Regions from separate parts of the Homo sapiens genome. Here region 1 is linked to region 2. The links come from fine-mapping of genetic effects on gene expression. Tissue or cell type: testis. Region 2 holds a variant in brackets; the other region holds the start of a gene. All regions are shown on one strand. Distances are between the middles of the regions.

What was found. PIP is the estimated chance that this variant, and not a neighbour inherited with it, causes the effect.
Region 1: MMP7 starts here. The variant in region 2 is fine-mapped to the expression of MMP7 in testis (GTEx, PIP 0.91).

What each region holds. Positions count from the first base shown.
Region 1 is chr11:102,529,225-102,531,995 of GRCh38, reverse strand. MMP7 (matrix metallopeptidase 7) reads left to right here and starts at 1,249. Exons shown (of 6, transcript NM_002423.5): 1 at 1,249-1,403. The coding sequence starts at 1,296.
Region 2 is chr11:102,551,188-102,553,958 of GRCh38, reverse strand. No RefSeq gene overlaps it. Among named protein-coding and RNA genes, the nearest start is that of MMP7, 22 kb to the right of the region's middle. RefSeq lists an enhancer at 2,574-2,623. The variant C/T (reference allele first, on the strand shown) is at 1,617.

The DNA of each region.
Region 1 (2,771 bases), 22 kb after region 2:
CAATTACCATGTAATTGAAGTGATATGTGATTAATTAAATTTTTTAGCTCCAGCATATTTGGAGTGTTTCCCATGATGTATTAGAGTCAAAAGCCATGGTGTTCTCCCAAGTAATGTATAATATAATAAAAGAGACAGACCTATTACAAAATGAATAGGCAGTGCAGTGGGATAGAAAAAGCACTGAGCTACTATCTGTGTGAGCTGGGAGAAGTATAATAAGTTAAATTATCATCTTGGCCTCACTTTCATTTTTGGTAAGAATGGAGTCATTGGGCTAGAATCTGTAGGTAATGGATTCTTACTGCTATACGTAGAATAACCATTTTGTGTACTAAGGACCAATGCAGCCCTACCTGTAGCTGGGCAGCAGCCAGAGTCAGAGTGATTGGAAGAAAAAAATTGGATCTCCAAGTTGAAGGTCTAGCCTTGGAAGAATCTGTTACTATAAAATGAGAAGCAGAATAAGTAAGCCAGATGAAGAGTTAAACCCGTGCTTGTAGATTTTTGTTGGCTTGGTATTTTTTTGTGTTTAATTCAAGAAGAATTAGAGGCAGTGTTCCCCATTAAGAAAAGACATAAACTGATTAAAAGGAGACCCAAAGAAGGGAATTATCACTGCTCTGCTAAGGGACGTGGAAGGTGAGGGGACACAGCACAGTTGTATATAGAGTGGCCACTAATCCAGCCACACAGCAGCATTTCCATCTGCCTCCTGCCATCTTTCCCCTGTATGGAGAACCACAGGATTTTGGTGATGTTCTATTTCTTGACTTTGGTGACGGTTACAGTATTTGCTTAATTATTATTTCATTATTTACATGTTTTGTGCACTTTTCCAAACCTTTTAATTGTTAAGAATATATGGTACCATGTATTTAAGAATACATGGTACCATATAATAAGAATATATATTTAAGAATATATATTATTCTTTAAGAATATATGGTACCATAATGTCCTGAATGATACCTATGAGAGCAGTCATTTGACTTTGGCAAAAAAATGAGGTTTCTCATGGAGTCAATTTATGCAGCAGACAGAAAAAAAAATCCTTTGAAAGACAAATACATTGTGTGCTTCCTGCCAATAACGATGTAATACTTCCTCGTTTTAGTTAATGAAAAATAACACATACTTTCAAAGTTCTGTAGACTCTAAAAAGAAAGAAAACACTCAAATGAGTCACCTATTTCCACATTCGAGGCTGAGAAGCTATATAAATTTCTGCAGTCACTAGCAGAAAACACCAAATCAACCATAGGTCCAAGAACAATTGTCTCTGGACGGCAGCTATGCGACTCACCGTGCTGTGTGCTGTGTGCCTGCTGCCTGGCAGCCTGGCCCTGCCGCTGCCTCAGGAGGCGGGAGGCATGAGTGAGCTACAGTGGGAACAGGCTCAGGTATGTCACAGCCCACTTACTTAGGGTTCCATTCTTTTGCCATCTGCATTAAGAAATGTGTTTTTCAATTATTTCCCTTCCCATGTTAGCATTGCAGTGGAATTTTCTTTGGGGTGGTTCTTCGGATTATAAAAGCAATATATGTTTTCATCAAGTAGCCATTAAAAGCAGGTTTCAGAATCTGCTCAAATCGGGCTTGAGTTCCAACCCTCCACTCACTATGTAGATAGACTCAGGAAGGTCATCAAACTTCTCTAAGCTTCAGGTTTCCAATTTGGAAGTTGGAGATAAGAATGGTATCAACCAAATGAGGGTGTTGTGAAGCATTCAACACAATACCTGAAACATTGTTTAAATTAAGTTCTTATTTTTATTTATTATAACTTGAGATTCTTTTTCTATAGTATACAGAATATTGCCTCTTAAGATACAACCTGTAAATATACTGTTTGTGTATTTACAATACTGTTTGTAATGGAGATATCTGAAGTCAGAAAACATGGGTAGAAATTACAACTCTCCAACAAGTCAATGACAATAGACAAGGCATTAACATCTGACTTTGTTTTCTCATGTGTCCAGTAGAAAAAATAATATTATGTGTTTTATACCTCATGGGGTATTCTAGTAAGTAAATGAGGTGATAACAAAACCAACTAGCATGTATGTAACAATTGTAGATTATAAAGTACTTATATAGACATTGTGTCATTTAATCCTTAGTTCTATAAAAAGAGGAAACCAAAGTTAAACTGATTAGTGTACTTATTAGTGGTAGAGATAGAAATCAAGGACAAGTGCTTCTGGTTCAAAAATCATGTTCCTTGCAATATGCTTCTTAATAAGCAGTCTAATAAATATAAGCAGTCTACTAATTATTATTTGGTTAACTAATGGGATGATTACTTATAACTATTATTTGTAAATTTAGGCCTTAAGCATAAGAAAAGTCAATTTTTAATTCACATTAACTTAGACTTTTAAAAAGTTCCAGTTATAATAAGTTAGATTGAACCACATAAAGTTACTAGTATTTAACTTTTAAAATCTCCAAAACAGTAGTTTTATATGGTTCCACCTAATGAATTCTCCAGAAAGAGTACTCTGCGTTTAGTTTCTTTACTTAGAGTGAAGGTTGGCAGAAACTTAGTCTTCACTTGGAGGGATGTTAGCTAGGTTTAACAAAAAAACAGGAAAAGTCATCTCAACAAAGCAGAGAGATTTCTTCCAGAGGGTGTCTTGGTAAAGTCTGTAGCTCTAGAAGGGATTAAATGGGTTATTTGTTTTTAAATAAAGGATCAGTTATCAATTGTCATGGATGAACAATAAGTATTTGTTGTATTTAATGAGACAATTGTTGGTAACAGG
Region 2 (2,771 bases):
CTTGTTTTGAGCTGCCCTATGGAGAGTCTCAGTGGCGAGGAATTGAGGACAGACTTCTGTACGGACCTGAGGTCATCATTCCAACAACACATGAAGAGCTGAATCCTGACAACAACTTCATTGGTAAGCTTGGAAGTGGATTTTCCCCCAAACAGGCCTTGAGGTGACCACAGCCCTGGCTGACTGCAGCCTTGTGAAATACCCTGAGACAGAAGACCCAGCTCAGCCACACCTGAACTCCTGACCCACAGAACCTGCTATAATAAATGTTGTTTTGGCTATTACGTTTTGGAGTGATTTATTATTAGATAACTAATACGTATGCATTTGGGAAAGTAAAGGCCTAAGAGTATATGGAAGTGGAATTGTTTGGCCATAATCTATGCATACGTTCAGCTTTAATATATACCACTAAATTGTTTTCAAAAGCAGTCATTGTCATGTACACTCCCAACAGCAGTGTGTGAGAGTTTTTATTGAGTTCTACTGAATGATCTTTGTTATTAAGCTTTTAGTATATGCCAGCCACTAAGTGCCTTACATGTGCTGTTTCATTTAATCTTCACAACAGTTCAGTGAGGTGGGTATTACTGTTTTCTCCATTTTCAGATTAAGTGAACCTGCCCCTGTCATTTACTAAAAAGAGGCAAGCCAGGATTTTAACCCATGTCCAATGCTCTTAGCCATTAAGCCTCTCCTGAGACAGATTTCAATGCAATTATAGCCACAGAGAAAACACATGTGAAAAATAACCATCATAGCGCACTAAAGGAAGAGCAGCATTTCATCTTGTGCATAAGTTAACCATCAGCACTGCACAGGGCTGATGAGGAGAAGAGGCTTCCAGACGGAGTTAGCAAAGGAAGAAAGATAGGCAATTTGGAAGGAGGGAAAGGATGGCCCAGGAAGGCTGGGAGGTAAAGAATATGCAAGCAAGGTCAAGAGCTCTATGCATTTGGCTCACTCTGCCCTCTGCATTTCCAGCCTCATGCAGCGATGTCATCCTTAGCAGTGAGTTGTCTACTTTTTCCGTAGCTCTCCCCAGAATAACACAGACCCCAGGGTCTTAAATGAAGGAGTGATTTTTCCAGATATTTCACCTTTCCCAAGGGAGAACACTACTCAGTTGTCTCTCCTTGGAACTCCTTCTTTTGCTGTTTATTGTTTCTGAGTGTGATTTTTTCCTTTCTTCCTCATTCCGCTGGTGCTTGTCACCACTCTGATGGGAATTCCTCTTAAAATGCCGGCAGTCTCTTTGATAAGCCTCGCCTTGCAGACCTAAGGTAAACTCCTGGAAGGATGCCCTGAACCTCTGGCTGTCTACCCACCTTCCACAACCCACAAATGGAGTGTTTCTGTGTACAGATCATCGGTTTTCCCCTCTTAAAACACTTGGACCTCCCCTGAGGGAAGAAAACCCTGGGAAACTCAATCACCCTCTTTGAGATCCAAGACAGGGCCTGGCCTTACTTTTTGGTGGACACTTATCTGAGCCAGCTTATAGCGTTACATTTTAGCTCAAGCGTCTCCAGATTTCCGCCTTTGAGGCCACACATTTCTCTAATATCCAAATACAATGACAAAATCCCCCATCCTGACTGGTTCTCTCGTTATCC[C/T]CTTCCTGCCAAAACAACACCAGCACCCAAATCCTTCTGAGAATACCTCTGTTAGGGGGATGCCTGCATTCTCTGCATTGTGTACACCATCTCCTCTCCAAGCTCCACCCCTGAGCATTGTCATGATTGTCTGTGCTTGTCACCCTTCCTGAGTCTGGAGTTCTTCAATGTGGACACAGCTCCTCCTCAACTCCATCTCACCTCTTCACAGTGTTGATGAGGGCAGCAGTTTCAAGAGGGAGATCACAGCAGAGGAGAGGAAACAATTTACAAATGAGTATCAGACCTCACTCTTGTAACCTTGCCTGGCCGTTCTCATCTCAATATTGTTTGCTCCTGTTTCTCTTCATGGGCCCTAGTCCCTAACAGTTGCTGTGGCCTCTTTTCTCTCCTCTTGTGTCTCTTCTCCCTTTTCCTAATTCTCCACATTCAGTGACCCTATAATACTCCTTGGGACCACTATGAAGAAGAGAAAAGGCCTATTGCTTTATTACATCAATCAATTTTACTTCCTTTGCCTCCATTTCCTATTTCCTGGATCATGACTTTCATAATCCCAAAATGCCATAAATTATATTCTCAAGAGAAAACTGTTCACTCTAGTCTTCCAACTTCAGTGGTAGCCTGGATCTCTGAAATTATTATTTTTTTAACAGCTTCAAATTTCCAGTTCCAGTTTCTTAGCTTCTTGGTAAAAGTACCTAGGCTTTCCCCTCCCAGGAGTTCGTAGGTAGAAGGAGAACTGTTAACACTCTAGTCTCCCCGTCTCCCGGGAGGCAAACACAGGGGCTAAGGCTCTTGTTTTATCCTCTTTCATGGGTAATACTGTGAAGGAAGGGCAGGATTTCCAGCCCAACTGTTGTAGCCATGAGTGAGAAGAATGTCAATTGAGAAGTGAGAAGAAAGCGTCAGTGTACAGGGGATGTAGACTGCTAAGCAATGCATTGTGACCAAGCACCACATGCCTGAGACAAAGCAGCTTCAAAGTCTCCCTGGCTATCTGTGAAAACTCCAGACACAAGCAGGATTTTGCAGCTTGAGAGAGCTGCCTACACGTTCTCTGGACTCCATTGGAGCTGCTATGGTCAACGTGCTATTATAAGGGATTCATGCTTCACTCCCAGAAGGGCCCTTGATGACATCTGTCCCACTTTC